Regions from separate parts of the Homo sapiens genome. Here all the other regions are linked to region 2. Evidence: fine-mapped expression QTL. A gene starts in region 2. Each other region holds a variant in brackets. All regions are shown on one strand. Distances are from middle to middle.

The links.
Region 1: its variant is fine-mapped to the expression of PPT1 in whole blood (INTERVAL, PIP above 0.99).
Region 3: its variant is fine-mapped to the expression of PPT1 in whole blood (INTERVAL, PIP 0.97).
Region 4: its variant is fine-mapped to the expression of PPT1 in whole blood (INTERVAL, PIP above 0.99).

The regions. Positions count from the first base shown.
Region 1 is chr1:40,012,185-40,017,389 of GRCh38, reverse strand. LOC105378669 (a long non-coding RNA gene) reads left to right here. Exons shown (of 3, transcript XR_001738013.3): 3 at 2,321-3,485. Among named protein-coding and RNA genes, the nearest start is that of CAP1, 26 kb to the left of the region's middle. RefSeq lists a silencer at 1,916-1,965. The variant A/G (reference allele first, on the strand shown) is at 2,494.
Region 2 is chr1:40,094,351-40,099,350 of GRCh38, reverse strand. PPT1 (palmitoyl-protein thioesterase 1) reads left to right here and starts at 2,099. Exons shown (of 9, transcript NM_000310.4): 1 at 2,099-2,236. The coding sequence starts at 2,113. RefSeq lists an enhancer at 2,235-2,364.
Region 3 is chr1:40,055,532-40,060,736 of GRCh38, reverse strand. It overlaps CAP1 (cyclase associated actin cytoskeleton regulatory protein 1), which reads right to left. Exons shown (of 13, transcript NM_006367.4): 2 at 1,279-1,400; 3 at 567-670. The coding sequence starts at 1,390. Among named protein-coding and RNA genes, the nearest start is that of CAP1, 17 kb to the right of the region's middle. RefSeq lists enhancers at 1,413-1,462, 1,068-1,829. The variant T/A (reference allele first, on the strand shown) is at 2,438.
Region 4 is chr1:40,023,563-40,028,767 of GRCh38, reverse strand. All of the region lies in intron 2 of LOC105378669 (a long non-coding RNA gene), which reads left to right. Among named protein-coding and RNA genes, the nearest start is that of CAP1, 15 kb to the left of the region's middle. The variant A/TA (reference allele first, on the strand shown) is at 2,125.

The DNA.
Region 1 (5,205 bases), 82 kb after region 2:
CTCTTCATCCCAGGTTCAAGTGATTCTCTTGCCTCAGCCTCCCCAGTAGCTGGGATTACAGGTGCACACCACCATGCTCAGCTAATTTTTGTGTTTTCTTTTTGTTTTTTTTTTTTTGAGACAGAGTCTCACTCTGTCACCCAGGCTAGAGTGCAGTGGTGTGATCTCAGCTTACTGCAACCTCCACCTCCTGGGTTCAAGTGAGTCTCCTGCCTCAGCCTCCCAAAGTGCTGGGATTACAGGCATGAACCACTGAGCCCGGCTGGGTGTGATTGTGCTGTAATACAACTTGATTTATAGAAACTGGAGGCAGGCCAGATTTGATCTAGGGGGCCATAGCTTCCTGGTCCCTGACCTAGGAAAGAAAAGGAAGTCCTGCATATCAACCCCAATAATAGAGCAGAAAAATAGAGCAACCCCAATTACAAAAAAGAAAAAAAATGGAAAGATTTATGAGTAGGCAATACACAGGAGAGGAAATGCAGAAGGATAGTAAGCAAGTGATGAGATGCTTAAATGCAATTACAATCAGAAAAATGTAAATTAATAATCTAATCTGATAGCAAAAATTAGAGATATGACAGTGATATTTGTTGGGGAAAGAGGAACTCCATGGTGGACATGAAGACTGGTGCAACCACTTTAGAGGGCAGCATGGTGGTACATAGTCAAATAGTGTGTCTGTATACTTAATGATCAAGCAAATCGGCTTCCGAGTCAGTATCTCAATGAAATTCCTACCCAAGTCCATAAAAGTTCATGAACTAGAATCCTGTAATCCCAGCACTTTGGGAGGCTGAGGCAGATGGATGACCTGAGGTCAGGAGTTTGAGACGAGCCTGGCCAACATGGTGAAACCCCATCTCTACTAAAAGTACAAAATTAGCCAGGCTTGGTGGCATGCACATGTAATCCCAGCTATTCGGGAGGCTAAGACAGGAGAATCACTTGAACCCAGGAGGCAGAGGTTGCAGTGAGCCAAGATCATGCCATTGCACTCCAGCCTGGGCAGAAAAGAGCAAAATTCCATCTAAAAAAAAAAGAAAGAAAGAAAGAAAGAAAAGAACTAGAATCTTCATTGAAGCATCATTTGTGTTTTGGAGGAGCAATAATTGTGGAAACAATTTGGATTTTCATCACTTAGAGAATAAATCTATAAAATGTGTTGAAGGTACACCATGAAGTACTATACAGCAATTGGAACCAATGAATTAGATGTACACTTAACAACATGGATAGATCTTGAACTTAAAAACAGTGCTGATTTTAAAAAGTGATAACAGAATACATAATAAACACAAGTCACTTTATTTATTAAATTTAAATATTTATTAAATATTAAATTTAAAATATTTGCACGTAAAATATGTTTTGCAAGACACAAATACCAAGATACATATTAAACACATTATAGTGGTTGTCTATCGGGAGAGAAAGGAAGTGGGCTATGGAATGAAAGGGAATATGTGTGTGTGTTTGTGCGTGCACGTGTGCACGCGTGTGTGTGTGTACATATATACACACATACACATAAGAAATTTAACAGGTTTATTTTTCATACAAAGCTGGTTTGTGAATTAAAACAATTAATTTGTTTTCTTTTCCTCATGGCTTGGTTTCAGTTATTTTCTGTATGTGCATGTGTGTGTGTGTATATATATATATTCCCTTCATTCCATAGCCCAATTCTCATATATACACATATATGAGACAGGGGGAGAAGTGGAAGAAGAATTGCATGGACCAATGACAGTAATGTGCCATGAAATGCAGAGAACAATTAACCACATCTGAGGTTAAAATTAAAACAACATATAATATAAAAAGCCAGATAATACGAATTTTTTTTGAAGGAGTAAAGAAAGCAACTTCATAGGGAGATAAACCTCAGCAGAGCTATGAAACCCTCCTCAATTCTTCGGACTTGGGACTGGCCATCCCCACAGGCTTACATGTAAGAGCGTGCTGAGTAGCATCTGAGTCAGTATGAGAAACATCTGAATAACAATGTGTAATGCCCGCTTGAGGTTACCAAGGTTTGAATCAGTATACTCTAAATTCTGAATGTATATGGATGATGACTAAATAAGCGCAGGTCATATCTGAATCAGCCTACCCAGTCCATAGTATCCAATATACATAGCATGATTCCCTAAAAATGTTATTATATATTAGTATATGCATACCAAAAAAAGGTGGAGGACTTTGCTATAAACTATTGACAGAGTTGTTGGTGAGAAATGTGTGGCAGAGACTGGCCAAAAGTTCAACAAATCTGTTTCCTCTTCCGCCTGGCCACTCATCAGCTTACATTTCTCAGTCTCTCTTGCAGATAACTATGGCCGTGTGCCTGAGATCTGGCCAATGGAATCGTGGACAGTTCTCCATGCTCTTTCTCCTTCTGTGGCAACTCTGAATGTCGTGTGTTCAAGATGAAGACAGAAGATAGAATGACCTTGGGTCTCTGAATCATTGCTTGGAGAAGAGCAATTT[A/G]CTGATCAGTGGTGTGAAAATAAGTAATTCAAAATCTAAGCTATTGGGCCAGGTGCAGTGGCTCACGCCTGTAACCCCAGCACTTTGGGAAACCAAGGCAGGTGGATCATTTGAGGTCAGGAGTTCGAGACCAGCCTGGCCAACAGGGTGAAACCCCGTCGCTACTAAAAATACAAAAAATTAGCCGGGCATGGTGGCATACGCCTGTGGCCCCAGCTACTTGGGAGGCTAGGGCACGAGAAACACTTAAGCCCAGGAGGCGGAAGTTGCAGTGAGCCAAGACTGCACCACTGCATGCTAGCCTGGGCAAGAGAGCAAGACTCTGCCTCAAAAAAAAAAAAAAAAAGAAAAAAATCTAAGCTGTTGGAACATTAAATTATTTTGAGCTTTAAAGAAATGTGTTTATGAGACTTGAGTCATGTGACAGGCAGCTGTAACCTAGGAAACTGTAAACATTTTTTCTCTGATTATAGATTAGCCTCCTTCCTTATCTACATAATTTTGTAAAATGTTGTAAATGACTAAAGGGTACTTCCCTTTAGTCCCACTTCACTGCTGATCTTCATTGCAGATTAACTTCCTTCCTACCTCTCTCACACAAAGCCTTCATGACTGTTACATTATATACTCTTTTAAATTAGAAAATAAATGAAACCAAGCCACAAGGAAAAGAAAACAAATTAACTAATTGAATTGTTTTAATTCATAAACCAGCTTTGTATAAGAAATAATCCTGTTAAATTTCTTTGTTTTCTTCCTTTATAAACAAGACCTTAACTTTTGACATCAGAGCACGGACCCCATTTCACTGACCCCATTTTCACGGAATAAACGCCTTAAAAAAATTTTTTTAATAGAAACAGAGTCTCACTTTGATGCCCAGTCTAGTCTTGAACTCCTGGCTTTAAGCAATTCTCCTTCTTGGTCTGCCAAAGTGCTGGAATTACTGGTGTGAGCCACTGTGCCCAGCCTGAATAAACTCTTTAAAAATGGGTGCTGATCCTTTTGATTCTTTCATGTTGATAGGGGCAAAATTCTGTTTTAGATTTCACTGGTAAAAGATAAAATCTTATCTTATTAGGCATTTGAGATGTTAGGATTGATCTGTTAAACTGCTAGCATTACATTAATCCCTACAATAGGGTTATAGGAAACTGCAACTTTCTACATTTTACATTTAGATACTGTTTGCATTTTGCAGAGCTTTACATTGCATATTTATAATCAGCATTGTATGCAATATAGATTTTTAAAAATTATGTTTCAAAATTTATAGCCAGCTTTTTCTCCTTGTCCTCTGAGTAATTCTTTTGCTTAACATTTTGGTGGAAAATGCAAAGCTGGGTGGTGTTACCAAAACGCTTGTTGCCCAAGGTCTATAAATATAGAAATCAGTTTGCTATCATTTCTGGGTTTTTTAATTGAAATATAACTCACATACTATAAAATTCACCCTTTTCAGCGTACAATTCAGTGGTTTTTAGTATATTTACAAGGTTGTGCAAATATCACCACTATCAAATTCCAGAAATTTTTCATTACCCCAAAAAGAAGCTCCATACCCATTAGCAGTCATTCCCTGTTCCTCTCACCCCACAAGCACTGATCTACTTTCTGTCTCTATGAGTTAGCCTACTCTGTACATTTCATACAAGTGGAATCATTAAAAGGTGGCCTTTCATGTTTGGCTTCTTTCACTAAGCATAATGTCTTCAAGGTTCGTCCATGGTGCAGCATATATCAGTACTCTCTTTTTGGCTGTATAATATTTTATTTGTGAATATACCACATTTTGTTTATCCATTTATCAGTTGATAGACATTTGGGTTGTTTTATGAATAATGCTGCTATGAACTTTTTTTAACGTAATTTTTAATTTTCTTTGAGACAGAGTCTTGCTTTGCTGCCCAGGCTGGAGTGCAGTGGTGCAATCTTGGCTCACTGTAACCTCCACCTCCCAGGCTCATGTGATTCTCATGCCTCAGCCTCCTGAGTAACTGAGATTAAAGGCTTGCACCAGCACGCCTGGCTAATTTTTGTAGTTTTAGTAGAGACAGGGTTTCGCCATGTTGGCCAGGCTGGTTTGAACTCCTGGGCCTATGTTATCTGCATACCTCTGCCTCCTAAAGTGCTAGAATTACAGGGGTGAGCCACTGCACCCAACCTGCTATGAACATTCTTTTTTTTTTTTTTTTTTTTTGAGATGGAATCTCGCTGTTGCCCAGGCTGCAGTGCAGTGGCACAATCTTGGCTCACTGCAACCTCCCTCTCCCAGGTTCCAGCAATTCTCCTGCCTCAGTCTCCCAAGTAGCTGGGATTACAGGCACATACCACCATACCTGGCTAATTTTTGAATTTTTAGTAGAGACGGGGTTTCACCATGTTGGCCGGGCTTGTCTTGAACTCCTGACCTCAGGTGATCCGCCCTCCTCGGCCTGTCAAAGTGCTGGGATTACAGGCGTGAGCCACTACACGGGACCTGAACATTCTTAACAAGACTTTTTTTTTTTTTTTTTAAATGATCGTAGGCCAGGCGCGGTGGCTCAGGCCTGTAATCCCAGCACTTTGGGAGGCCAAGGCGGGTGGATGACGAGGCCAGGAGATCGAGACCATCCTGACTAACACAGTGAAACCTCGTCTCTACTAAAAATGCAAAAAATGAGTCGGGCGTGGTGGCGGGCGCCTGTAGTCCCAGCTACTCGAGAGGCTGAG
Region 2 (5,000 bases):
TTCATTAAAGGCAGGAAACTTCATTGAGCGGGCTATATTCACAGAAAAATCCTGAAACTACTTCAATTTGTAAGTCTTAAGTTAAAATAAAATGCTTATACAATAAGCTTATTTTTCTTAAAACAAAACTGTATACTGTACTGTATAATGCTTTATGATTCTGCATTTTTTTTTCTTTGAGACAGAGTTTCACTCTTGTTGCCCAGGCTGGAGTGCAGTAGCTCAATCTTGGCTCACTGCACCCTCTGCCTCCTGGGTTCAAGTGATTCTCCTGTCTCAGCCTCCTGAGTAGCTGGGATTACAGGCACCCACCACCATGCCCGGCTAATTTTTTGTATTTTTAGTAGAGATGGGGTTTCATCATGTTGGCCAGGCTGGTCTCAAACTCCCAACCTCAGGTGATCCACCTGCCTCAGCCTCCCAAAGTGCGCCCAGTGGATTCTGCATTTTAATCGACTTTTCAACTAACAACTTACCTCTAGTCCCAATGGCATGGAATAGAAGAGATTACAGACCGTGGGTTTGTAATCGACTTTTCTTTTACAACATATTAAGGGCATTTTTCATGTCACTTTATGTAAATTTACCTCATTTTTCTTTTTTGAGAGAGACAGGGTCTCACTGTTGCCCAGGGCAACAGCGAGATCATAGCTCAGTGCAATGGCGAGATCATAGCTCAATGCAGCCTTGAACTCCTGGGCTCAAGTGATCCTCCCACCTTAGCCTCCCCAGTAGCTAGGATTACAGGCACATACCACCACCCCTGGCTAATTAAAAAAAAATTTTTTTTTTGTAGAGATGGGGTCTTGCTATGCTGCCTGGGCTGTACTCTCTTTTTATTTATTTTTTATTCTTATTTTTTGAGACAGAGTTTTGCTCTTGTTGCCCAGGCTGGAGTACAATGGTATGATCTCAGCTTACCGCAACCTCTGCCTCCCGGGTTCAAGAGATTCTCCTGCCTCAGCCTCCTGAGTAGCTGGGATTACAAGTATGCGCCACCACACCCGGCTAATTTTGTAATTTTAGTAGAGACGGGATTTCTCCATGTTGGTCAGGCTGGTCTCGAACTCGCTACCTTAGATGATCTGCCCACCTCAGCCTCCCAAAGTGCTGGGATTACAGGAGTGAGCCACCGCGCCCGGCCCTATACTCATTTTTTATAAAACTGGCCTCATATTATTCCATTGTATAGTGGATACACTCTAATTTCTTTATAAATTATTTAAACTATTTTTTGATGTTTTGTTGAAAAAAAACTTGAGCAGGGAACTGATATTATGAAGGTGGATTGAGGGATGAATGTGGCAATAGAGCATAAAATGAATTAAAGAGGAGAGAATGGAAAAGGAAATGGTTGATGAGAGACCCTTGAAATAATCCAGCTGAGATTAGGCCAGTTAGTGGCCATGGGTTTCCCCCTCACTCTTATGCATCCAACATATGCTTTCGTCCGTCTTGAAGTCCCGACATTTCTAGAAAACACAGTTGTCTTTCTCCTCTCTACCTTAGCTCATCTCAGTCCTTCTGAATTTCATCTTTGCTTGTTGAAATCCTACCTCTCCTTCAATATCCAGAACAAACCCCACACCCTGCCATGATTGGTCCTGGCTGGAAACCGTCCCTCCTTCTTTCTTCCTTCCTCTGTGCATGTTTCTTGCAAAGGCAGTACAGGGCAGTGGTGAAGAGCAACGACTTTGGAACCACCAATTTGCTATCTCTGTGACCTTGGGCACCTTACTCAGTGCCAATTCGCAGTGCCTCAGTGTCCTCACCTGTCAGGGGGAGAAGTGCATACAGCATTGTTATGAAGAGTGAATTAGTTAAAGGTTGTAAGAATAGTGCCTGATAGCATCTGATCAGCACTGAATATATGTTAGCAATTATTTTGATTCACCGCAGAGGGCGGTCTACGAGAGCGCAGAGCCCCACTCGGCCAGCGGGGTCTGGCGGGGGACCTGTCGCGCTGAAAGCTCCAGGGTAGGGCCGACGCCCATCAGGCTGGGCATCCGTTCGGGATGCGCAGGTTGCGATCTGCAACCGGCGGCGCCACGCCCAGGCGGGCGGAGCGCGGTTCCCGGAGTCTCGCGCCCGCGGTCATGTGACACAGCGAAGATGGCGTCGCCCGGCTGCCTGTGGCTCTTGGCTGTGGCTCTCCTGCCATGGACCTGCGCTTCTCGGGCGCTGCAGCATCTGGACCCGCCGGCGCCGCTGCCGTTGGTGATCTGGCATGGGATGGGTGAGTGAGTGAGAAATTTAAAAGGGTTTGGCGATTCTCTCTCTTCCTAGCCTGGGTTCGCATCTGCAAAATGCGGGTGTAGAGGGCGAGGACGTGGTCCCACAGCACGCGGCTGCCTCGACATTTTAGGATTTGAAGGATCTGCATTGGAAAGAGAGAAGGGGAAGGAGCCGTCCCCTTCACTGGAAAGAGAGAAGGGGAAGGAAAGAGAGAGCCGCGCACGGCGTTGAAGTTTTACATGCTGTCCTTGATTAATCCTTACAGTAGTGGCGTCAGGATGCAGCATCTCTCACTTGGTCAGGCTAGGTGAGCTGCGGCTGGCTATATGACTGGCGCATCTACCCTTTTATTTATTCCTTCACACATTGAACAGAGATTTGTTAGGCACCTACAGTTCATTTACAAATTGAGTAACCCTTATCTGAAATGCTTGGGACTGGGAAGCATTTCGGATTTTTTTTTTTTTAATATTTGCATATATACAAGAGATCTGGGGGGTGGGACCCAAGTGTAAACAGGAAATTTATTTATTTTTCATATACACCTTATACACATAGCTGGAAGGTAATTTTATGCAATATTTTAAATAATTTTGTGCAACCCATCACATGAGGTCAGGTGTGGAATTTTCCACTTGTGGCATCATGTCTGCGCTGAAAAACTTTCAGATTTTGGGTTTCCCATTTTCAGATTAGGATGCTCAACCTATATTCATTTAACACAGTTATTGAGCACCTACTAGGTGCTGAGGATACAGTAGGGAACTAAACAGACTAAATTCTTTGTTCTTTTGGAACCTACTCTCCAGTAGGAGAAGCAGATTATAAAGAAATTAACAAGTAAAACATAACATATCAAATGGTGATATGTGCAACAGAGAAAAATATAGTAGGGTGTAGGATAAAAACTGGAGGTGGGGGCTTGCACTTTTAATAAAGCAAAGTTGGGAAAGAATTCATTGAAAAAGTGACATCTGAGTACAAAACTGAGGTAGATGAGGACAGTTGCCATTTGGCTGTCTGGTAGAAGGAACAGTAAATGGGAAAGCCCTGATGTGGAAGTATGTCTGGTGTGTTCAAGGGACAGCATTCAGATCAGCGTGGCTGGAAATGAGTAAGCAAGGGGAAGAAGTTAGGAGTTTAGTTTGGAAGGGAGGGGCAGGTACAGAAGTTATTGGGCCTAGTAAGACTAATGCAGGGACTTTGGCTAGAGTGTCATGGGGAACTTTTTGAGCAGATGAGTGACATGATCTGACACATTTTTAAAGAATCACTTTAGTTGCTGTATTAAGAATAGATCGTAGGGCGTCATGGATGGTCACAGGGAGACAGGTTAGGAAACTATTGCAATAATTTAAACAAGAGATGATGACTTGGAACTGTAGAGTAACAGTAGAGGTGTTGAGAAGTGGTCAAAGTTTGGATAGATTTTGAAGGTGGATTGCTAACAGATCAGACTTGGAATAAGAGAGAAAGAAAGGAGCCAAAGATGACTCCACAGGTTTTGGCCTGAACAATTGGAAGGGTGAAGTTTTCATTTTACCAAGATGGGGAAGCCTGTAGGACAAGCTGACTTAGGGTGGGGGAAAGATCAAGAGTCTGCTTTTGGGCTTACTAAACTTGAGATCCTCATGAGACACCCAGGAGATGTTGTAGAGGCATTTGGAGTGTGGAGTCTAGGACAGAGATACGGGTTGGAGATTTAAGTAGGGAGTCTTCGGCATACAGCTAGTAGTTAAAGGCTAGGTGAGACCACCTAGGAAATGAGCGTACACAGAGGACTAAGCCCTGAGGCACTCCATTCCATTTGGAGGTGGAGGAAATGAGGAGAAACTAGCAAAGGAGGCTGTAACCAAATAGCCGGTGAAGTGGAGGGGTCAGGAAAGCGCAGTGTCCTTGAAGCCAAGTGAAGAAAATGTTTCAGGAAGAAGGGCATGATCAACTGCATCAAATGTTGATAGGTCATGATCAACTGTATCAAATGTTAATGGGTCAAGGAAGATAAAGGCTGACAACTGATTATTGGATTTAGCAATATAAAGATGATTAATCTTGACAAAAGCAGTTTTGGGAGAGTCGTGATAGTGAGATCTTTATTGGGATGGGTTACAGAAAAATATTCAGAGTAATTAGAGTCAGCAAATACAAACACTTGCAAGGTTCTCCAACAGGCCCTGGGGCTACTACAGTGGGGTCAAAAGAGGACACAGGGTAGGAGCTTTGTGTTTTCCCAGAGCTCACAGTCAGTTACAGGGGAGGCAGAGGCAGTTAAGTAACCTACAATTACAGCTCAGTGTGGAGAACGTTGTTTTCAGAGAAATAAAAGGAATAGACAATTCTCTAGGCAGTAGCCTTTTCTTGTTCTAAAATTGGTGCTTAAGCTTTCTCGCAGGTTGAAAATGGAATAAGTAAGTTCAAAATGGGAAATGATCTCAGTCCACTTCTACTCAGTAGCCAGTTTGCTTCCTGTTCCTAGTTCTAGTTCCCTGAAATAGAAGAAACAAGTCTGGGGCTAGGACAAGATGAAGAGGCTCCTGAAGTGCAAATTTAAGGAGGCACTCACTCTCAAATTCAGGGTCAACACTTACATAAACCTGAGAATGAGTGCCTCCTTAAATTTTGTGCCCTAGAGCGGGGGTCCCAAACTCCCTGGGTCTGTGACCTGTTAGGAACTAGCCACACAGCAGGAGGTGAGTGAGCCTGCAGCCTTACCACCATGAGCTCTACCTCCTGTCAGATCAGCAGTGGCATTAGATTCTCAAAGA
Region 3 (5,205 bases), 39 kb after region 2:
GCAGGAAGGTTTTTGGGTCCCAAAAATAGAGGTAGAATGTATATGTGAGTGTGGGGTGGGGGTGGGGGGTGGTGGTGATGACGTAGGAGGCATAAAGGAAGGTGGGAGGAAAGGCACCTGTCATTGCCTACTTCATATTCTTGCTGTGGGTTAAGTGTGAAAATAACCCACATTAGCATAACTAATAACTATCAAGCATAGTTTTATAAATGCTAAGTCATGATAATGACTCCTTTAAATAAGCCACTGTAGGTTTGATTATGTAATATGTTGGGATCAAACTGGTGCATATTCTTCACTACAAAGATGAACAGAACCATATTTTATGTACCAAGCAAGCTTTCTGTATAAATACGTGATAAAAGCAAGGGGCCTAGAAAAAAATGAGGAATCGTTTCTGTGGCTAGACTGAACTCCTCAGTACAGGCAAAAGAGAAAGAACATGTGTAATGCCCCAAACCAAGAGGAACTTCTCAAGGAGCTCTTAAACCAAGGATGAGGACCTTGGCTGACTGAAGAAAGCTGTTAGTCCTTAAAAGAAGGGGAAAAAGGCAAAACATCCTTACATGTTTCTGCACGTCTCCCCCAATCTCTTTACTGATCTTCAAGTACTCTGCCACAGGACCAGCAAGCAGCGAGTCAAATGCCTGCACATATGGAGCTGCTCCTGCTAAAGACAAACACACCACAAAGAATCAGCCATGCATCAGAAGGAGGCTTCTTTAAAACGTGCTTCTACATGAAAGTGGGGAGGCAAGGTAATACAGTCAACAGGATACAGAACAGGAGTAAGGAAACCTGGGTTCCAGGTCCAGTATCACCACTAACTGGTTGTGTGACCCTGACTAAATTCCTTTTCCTCTCTGAGCTTAATTTTCTTTATCTATAAAATGAAAATAAACAAAATGATCCTCCAAGGTTTTTTTTAGTGCTAACATTCTATGTTCCAACTGGTGCATGTGCAAAATGTCCAATTTGCCAATTGTTTGGAGAGAGGAATTTTATTATCACTTGTCATTTGACTTACATTGGAGTCATTCTGCTAAAGAAAGAGCAGGAAATATTGCACAAGCAGGAAGTTCTTGTGTTAAAATAACTTAACCACAGGCCTCCCTGTACAAGTCATTTCCTCTCTTATCTGTTCACAGCAATACAAATTACAAAAGGTAAACTTTCTAGATTAAGTTTTGGGAAGTTAGCGCCAAAGGAGAGAATAATAGAAAATTTTCAGGCCAAGACGCTCAAAGAAAGCATTCTGCTGGGCTGTGGACTGCTTACCTTTTGAAGGACTGTCTGCATACCCACGGTGCATGTCAGAGGTATGAGATACTGCCTCCAGGCGGCCCACTGCCCTCTCCAATCTTTCTACCAGATTTTGCATGTCAGCCATAATGGACCACCTGCTGAAACAGATCAAATGTCATTTGTTATTTAAATATTAAATAGCACCTACAGAGAAAAAAACAGAAAATTCCTGGTCATCCCCAGGTGGATGAAGAGGATGCCAATTCTCAGGAACAGAATAATTTAATAAAATTAGATATCATCTGCAAAATGGAACAATACAAAAATATCAGATAAAAAAGTAGCATATTTACAAAATCAAAAGACCTCATTAAGCAAGAGAACTGCTCAGGAAAAGGTGTTCACTAAAGTAAATGCTTACTCATTCAAATACTCAATATTTACTATGATACTGTGTGTAGAAAGTTAGAATTTGCAAAGGATAGTCACATACATTATCTCAGTTTGAGCCTCCCGACAACTATTCAGGAATAGAAGGATGATTACTACACGCTTAGAGATAGAAAACTTAGTTTCAGTGAAGCTAAATGACTTGTCTAGTCACACGGCCAGTGAATAGAGAAGCCAGTACTCCATCATATCCTTATCTGATCCTTCTGGTTCTAAGTTCAGTGTGTTTTTTTCCTACAACATCCTGCTGCCTGCATGTGAAATATCCCAAACCAAGATGAATAGGATGTTTACTCTTCCCTCAATAATTTTTTTTTTTTCAGACAAAGTCTTACAATGTCACCCAGGCTGGAGTGCAGTGGCAGGATCTCAGCTCACTGCAAGCTCCACCCTGTTGGGTTCAAGGGATTCTCCTGCCTCCCAAGTAGCTAGGGTTATAGGTGTGCGCCACCATGCCCAGCTAATTTTTTGTAGTTTTAGTAGCGACAGGGTTTCACTGTGTTGGCTAGGATGGTCTTGAACTCTTGACCTCAAGTAATCCACCCGCCTTGGCCTCCCAAAGTGCTAGGATTACAGGCGTGAGCCACTGTGCCCGGCCTGCCCTCAGTAATTTATAGTCTAATGGGGAGACTTAACATATGCACTAACAACTATGAAACAAATAGAAAAAAATGTTAAGGTGACATAAGAAAGTTGCTGATAGAGAGGCATGAGATTTCAAAGAGGGGAGTAATATATCAGC[T/A]GGAAGGATCAGATAAGGATATGATGGAGAAGCTGCCATTTGAGCCAGCCTTCAAATGAAGATGAGAAAGATCTGGACATGCAGTAGGGAAGGACACTAGACACATCCAAAAGAATTTGTTATAGATCTTTCACAAGTACTATCTTATCTGAAATAGCCTAATTCAATGTCTAATATCCCAAAGAAAGTAAGCTCCAACAGAGAAAGGACCTTATATAGCTTGTTCCTTACTGTATACTCTACCATCTAGACTACTACCTGGCAGGTAGTAGATGTTCAATAAATATTTATGAAGTTATAAACCTCACAAATAGCATTCCAAAACTCCAGAGGGATAAGGGTGCTAAAAGTTGCCCATAAGTCACACATAAGTGTAAAATATGATCAATGCACCTCTACATAAAGTATTTGAGACCCTAAGTGATCTCATAAAAACCAGTCAGTGAAATTTCAATCCAAGCTTTGACTTGGAAAGATTCCATTTCACAAAAGCGTCAATTCAGGCAACTGAATTCAGTTCAGGTAACTGAAGCTGAATGAACTCAACTCCCTTGAAGCTGCCTAAAATGACAACAGCAATTATGATTCCCCCAAAGATGACAGCATGCCAGAATTATCTCAATTTAACACATTGTCCTCCCTGTGGAAGAGATAAGCAGCTCACAAGATAAAGTAAGGAAGACAATATAGTCTCTGTCCATTCTCTGTGTACAGGCTCTGGTCTCTGTGGGCCCAATCACTTGTCAGAGAGTGTTGTTTAAAAGAGAAGCAAAGAAAAAAAATGAGAATGAGAACCAAACAAACCTTTCCATTCCTTGGCCTGCAGCAGCAGCAGAAGCCTCCAGGTCTATGTCCTACTCTCAAATAGAGCAGACCATAAGCAGTCAACATACTTTCCCTAATGTTATGACACTATCAACTGATATCTGAATTCCTGCCCTGTTCCATTATGCATACTGATCAAGAGACAGACTCACATATATATACAATCCACCACACTGTAAGTCCAGGGGAAAAGGCAAGGAACGCAATAAACTCCTAAGCTACCTTCCATGAACAGATACCACTCAGTTCTGTTATTAAAACATGTTCCTTCATACATGGATGTTTCAGGTTGAGACCACTGTTAACATGGAGACACAGTACATGTATTGCTAGAGGCTGCCAGAGTTTGTGAACATTTACCAATCTTAAATGCTTAATAATAGAGCTTCATGGGACTTTGGCTCCCTTTTTCCATATTTCATTTGTATTTATAGGCTTTCACTGCTAAACAAGCTAAAGTTCCGCTGTCTGACTTAAGCAGAATGAAAAAGGACAATACAGCTACCATTTATAGCTAATCTCATTCTACCATTAACCAAATACAAAAGAACAGAAACTGTTTTTTTTGCTCTTGGTGGGAGTAAGATGAGATTTGAGATGTTATGGAAAATAATGTCCAGAATTTAAGTATGACATTGTATGTGTGTGTAGAGAATGAGATTCAGTTGTGTGAAAGACACACCTTTTCTTATTCTCTATACACACGTACATTCTTCCGGTGGTCATGTACACTCCTAAAGCCTCTGACTACCCTTGTTGTAGTAACACCCAGCCTATTTGCGAGGTGGTACCACCATAACCACCTATAGACTAAAGACTACCAGAGCAGCATATCCATCTAGCTCAGGCCATTCATCTGGGATTAAATTTTAGATTCAGGCCAAGTACTGTGGCTCACAACTACAATCCCAGCACTCTGGAATGCCAAGATGGGAGGAAGTGTTTGAGCTCAGGAGTCCACGACCAGCCTGGACAACATGGCAAAATTCCATCTCTACAGAAAATAAAAAAATTAGCCGGGCATGATGGTACACACCTGTAGTCCCAGCTACCCAGGAGGCTGAGGTGTGAGGATTACCTGAGCCCAGGAGGTCGAGGATGCAATGAGTAGTGATTGTACCATGCACTCCAGCCTGGGTGACAGAGTGAGACCCTGTCTCCAAAAAAAAAAAAATCCAGCTTTCACCTAGACATCGCTACCTGGATGTCCCAAAGGCAACCTGAAATGTCCAAAAGCAGAAATCATATTCCCTAACATTGCTCCAGCACTGCTATCAATCACCTGATTGATCAAGTCAGTAACTGGAAACTGTTGGGCAGTATTATATAGTGGATAAGAGTGTTCTTTAGAGAAATCAGAGAGATTGGAGGTTTGAATAACAATATGCAGTGGCTTTGTGACTATAAGCAGTTATCAAACTTTCTGAGACTCAATTTCCTTATCTTTATAATGAAGACAATAATAGCACAAAAATCCAAAGGGCTTCAGTGAGAATAAATGAAGGAATCCATGTAGAAGTGCTTGGCACAGTCCTGGAAAATAGTAAGGATTCCATAAACTCCCCCACAACATCTTATCAGTCATCAAAATCCATAGGCTCTATTTAGTGTATCTCATGAATAGATGCCTCTTGCCTCCATCCTGACTGATAAGAGTTAGGATACTGGCTGGGCACAGTGGCTCACTCCTCTAATCCCAGCACTTTGGGAGGCCAAGACAGGAGGGTTGCTTGAGGTCAGGAGTTCAAGACTAGCCGGGGCAACATAGGGAGACCTTGTCTCTACAAAAATAATTTAAAATTTTTCCAAGCATGGTGGTGTACAGCTGTGGTCCCAGCTACCTGGGAGACTGAGGTGGGAGGATGGCTTAGGCCCAGAAGGTAGAGGCTTCAGTAAGCCATGAGTACCACTGCACTCCAGCCTGGGCAACAAAGCAAGATCCT
Region 4 (5,205 bases), 71 kb after region 2:
GTATCCATTGGATTTTAAGACATGGTGGCCTTTGGCGATATTTTCAGAAGCATTTTTTGCAGACTGGTAGTAGGCAGAGACTAGATAAAGTGTAATGGGAAGTGGGAGGTGAGAAAAGGGGGAGAGCAGTGTAGGTTACGCTTAAAAATTTTCCTCTGAGAGTGGACAAACAAAAGCAGTTGAAGGGAAACTTATTAACCCAGCTCTTCAAGCTAAATATTGAAGAGTTGAATTTGATTCGACTCTTCTATTCCTCTTATGTCCCGTTTCCAATATATGAGCAAAGACCATTGGCTCTAACTTCAAAATATATTCTGAATCTCTCTACTTACTCATTTTCTTCACTGCTACCTACTCCAAGCTACCATCATCTCTTGCCTGGACTATCTTAAGAGCCTCTCAATTTATCTAATTGATCTATCTCTGCCATTTGTTTCCTACATATCAAATATATGAATTAACGAGGCAACTTATTTGCCTCCTATACACATCCTACATACAATGGTGGGAAAGGCTAGAGTTGCTCTACAGTTGCTCCCATGGCTAGAGTTGCTCTAGAGTTGCTCCCCTTCAAAACAAGGGAAAATGGGAGGCATACAGCAGAGACAACTCTGAAATCCAACTGATGTAGGTTGATTAGAGCTTAGTCCAATTGCCGGAGAGTTGTTCATTGTGGTTTCAGCTCCAATATCTGGGCTCTTGGTTACACTCTGAATCATCCTTCCTTTTCTATAAGAAAATTGAGTTTGTATCTGAGTAGCCTTCTCAGCCTGATTCCTCCCTATAAAAGGCATCTTTCCATTTTGTACTGTCTATGTCCCCATTAGTCCTAGCTGATAGATGCTTCTGCCAGAGCAATTCTCTTAGAAGCTTTGTGGGTTCCTTATGCATGAATTTATTATCCACTCCAACAAAAGCTACTCTCATAAATCTCTTTGAGATAAGCACTTCCTTCCCTTGAGAGACTGCTCCAAAATGTCCTTAAGATCTTTGGAGAGACTTTTTTTTCTATCAGATGGATTCTATAAAGCATCCTATAAAGCATTCTATAAAGGTCTTAACCTTTAACTTCTTTTTTAGATAATATTTTCCTGACAGTGTCTTGGATTTTACTTCTGCCCAGAGCCATTTCTTAACTTTAGAATCATTTACCATCTGGAGAGGCTGACAGTGAAAACAGTTTTATTTTCAAGCCAAGCCAAGTAAGTCCTGGTCCTAGATATAGATATGTGTGTGTGTGTGTGTGTGTATATATATATATATATATACACACACATATATATACACACATATATATACACATATATATACACATATATATATACACACACATATATATCAGCTTTATTGAGATATAATCCACATACCATACAAGTCTCCCATTTAAAACATACAATTCGATGTTTTTAGTATATTCACAGAGTTGTACAACTTTTACCATGATCAATCTTAGAACATTTTTATCACCCCAAAAAGGGACCTGGTACCCATTAATGGTCATACTCTGTCCCCCCTCACCCCTGCCACCTCTGTCTTAGTCTGTTTGTGCTGCTACAACAAAATACATGAGACTGAATAATTTATAAATAGTAGACATTTCTCACAGTTCTAGAGGCTTGGAAGTCCAAGATCAAAGCACTGGTGTTTGGCATCAGGTGAGGACCTTCTCACATGGCAGAAGAGATGGAACCCACCAACTCAAGCCCTTTTATAAGGGCCTTAATGCCATCCATGAGGGCTCGGCCCTTATTAGTCATCTCCTAAAGGCCCCACCTCTTAATACTATTACATTGGTGATTCAGTATCAACATATGAATCTTGGGGACACATTCAGAACACAGCACCCCACAACTCTCCCTGCCCAACCATAGGCAATCACTAATCTACTTGTCTCTATAGATTTGCCTATTCTGGGCATTTCATATGTTAAATAAAATGTATGGTCAGGCACAGTGGCTCACCTACCCAGCTAATTTTTTAAATTATCTGTAGAGATGAGGTCTTACTATGTTGCCCCGGGTGGTCTTGGGCTCAAGCAATCCTCCCTCCTCAGCCTCTCAAAGTGGTAGGATTACAGGTGTGAGCCACTGCACCCAGTCTTATAAATTGATTTTTTTTTTTTTT[A/TA]AAAAAAGACAACTCAACCATCTGCAACAATAGGGGCTATGGTTCATCCCCCTAACCTCACTCATTCAGGTTTCTCCTCAGGAAGAGAGGCCTGTGAGAGCTGTAGAGGAACTTCTCTCCAATGATGTGGGGCAGGTGGATCTTGGCAGTGCAAGGGATGGGCTATGTGACCAAGGGGTGGACTGTGTGCACAATGTCTTACATCCACCTTCACAAAGAGAATCTGCTGTGAGGTGTAGAGGTAACTGCCGTACCTCTGGGATTTGCCACAGCATTCTTGCCAAGGCACGCTTTCCCTGGATTCATCCCAGCCAATGACCGAGCTCCAGGGCATACTACAGCTGGGCCATTTCTGCCTTATGTGGGACTCCTTCACTGGGCAATCAGCCTGGCCAAGAGTTTTTTCAGAGCTGCACTAACACTCGGAGCCTCTTCCTACCCAATCCTCCTTCTTTCCTTCTCTCCTCTCACGGGTGTCAGTCCTGCACCATGGCCTGAAGATTCTCCCTGTCTACTCCTGCTGCTTCTTATCTTTTCACTGCCATTTTCCACTTGAACTTTTTTCTTTTCTTTTTTTAGAGGCAGAGCCTTACTCTGTCACCCAGGCTGGAGTGCAGTGGCTCAATTATATCTCATTGTAACCTCGAACTCCTGGGCTCAAGCCGCCTCCCGTCCTCAGCCTCAATCTCTTGAGTAACTATCTGCCTTGAACTTGTGAGAGGACTCAAATTTATGCAGCTTTTAGCTGTTTCTAAGAAAAAGTTTGGTATGGGTGCTACCATAATGAAAGCCTAAAATGTGGAATTGGCTTTGAAACCACCTGGCTGACTGAGGCTGGAAGGACATTGAGGTGTGGCATGGTGGCTCACGCCTGTAATCCCAGCACTTTGGGAGGCTGAGACAGGTGGATCACCTGAGGTCAGGAGTTCAAGACCACCCTGGCCAATATGATGAAACCCTGTCTCTACTGAAAATAAAAAAATTAGCCGGGCGTGGTGGCAGGCACCTGTAATCCCAGCTACTCAGGAGGCTGAGACACGAGAATTGCTTGAACCTGGGGGACAGAGGTTGCAGTGAGCTGAGACTGCACCACTGCACTCCAGCCTGGGCAACAGAGTGAGACTCCATCTCAATAAATAAATTAATTAATTAAAATTTACAGGAGGCCATTGATTTGGACTAGGCTCCTGCACTCAGCCTAACAGACCAAACCAATGGAGTTTAACTACAGTGACTGAGCTGGGATTATAGGCATGCACCACCACACCCAGCTAATTTTTGTATTTTTAGTAGCGATGGGGGTTTCACCATGCTAGCCAGGCTGGTCTTGAACTCCTCACCTCAGGCGTTCCACCTGCCTTGGCCTCCCAAAGTGCTGGGATTACAGGCATGAGCCACTGCACCCAGCCTATTTTCTACATGATTTTGCAATGGCTTTCCAGCTTAAAATTTAGAGTCAATTTGTTCATATAAAGAGGATATCAAGTACCAATATCCTAAAATATTGACAAACTATTAAGTGTAAAACTCCCCCAAATTCAGTTTAATATGAAACATACTACATGTATCATAGAATTTTCAAATATCTCATGTCACATTAATAAAGAAAGGAAAAATTGGGTTACTGTTGCCAAAGATGTCACAGATAGTATAGAATTCTGACAGACAGGTCCAAGACAGGGAAGCAGTTTAAAACAAAACAAAACAAACAAACAAAACAGGTTTGACTTAATAGGTTATACTTAGAAAATGTTAGCCAATATTAGAGTACATATATTTTTGTCAAGAATTTCCATGGAGCTTTTATAAATATTGACCATGCTCCAGGTTACAAAACGAGTCTCAAACACCAAAGAATCAGTATACTTACCGCATTGGGTGTCTCATTATAACTGGAGGACAGTAAGAACAGTAACAGCAACACCTTAAAATACCCTGTATGTTGGAAAAACTTTAAATATAGTTACTGCTAAACTGATCAAAGAAGACACCATACAAGAAAGTATCAGAAAATACTTAGAACTGAATGATTTTAAGAGTGCTATATTGAAATTTATAGGATGTACTTAAGGAGAAATGCATAGCCTTAAGTGCTTATATTAGAAAAAAAGATAGGCTGGAATTTAAAGAGCTAAGCTTTAAAGTCAAGATGTTAGACAAAAATCAACAAAGAAAGCAGAAGTGGCCAGGCATAGTGGCTCACACCTGTAATCTCACCACTTTGGAGGCCAAGGCAGGAGAACTGCTTGAGGCCAGGAGTTCGAGACCAGCCTGGGCAGCATAGCGAGACCCCCAATCTCTAGAAAAAAATTTAAAAATTAGCCAGGCATGGTGTCTCAGTCTTTGCTACTTAGGAGACTGAAGCAAGAGGATCACTTGAGCCCAGGAGATCAAGTCTGAAGCGAGCCGTCATCACGTCACTGCACTCTAGCCTGGCAACAGAGCAAGACCCCATCTCTAAATAAATAAATAAAACAAAAAAAAAAAAAAAGGAAAGAAAGTAGAAGTAATGAGATAATAAAAATGAGAGGAGAAAAAACAACAGGAGAAACTAAGCAGAAAACAAATATATGTGATAAAAGAGATTGACATAACCAAATGTTGGTTCTTTGAGAAAAGTAATAAAATAGACAAACCGCTGGTGAAATGATGAAGAAAAGTACAAAAAAAAAAGAAGTAAAAAAGAGGACATACTACAAGTACAGCAGACACTGATGATATACATATTTAAAGACTGTCTACCGCAGCCTGCCCTCTGGCCAACACCATTCACGTCCATTCCATGTGCAAAATATACTCACTCTCCTCCCAGGACCCCCAAAGTCTCATCCCACATGGTATCAGCTTGAAGTTCACAGTCTCATTACCTAAATGAGGTCTAGCTGCAGATGAAGCTCTTCAGGCGTACTTCCTTGAGTGTGGGTTCCTCTTGATATGAAGACCTGTGAAATACAGTCAAGTCATCTGTAACACAAACACAACATCCAATAGTCATATGAGGATAGGAAAACTGCAATAAATGCTCCCATTCAAAAGGGATGAACAGGAGGCACATAACAGTCAGTGTTCCATAGTAATTCT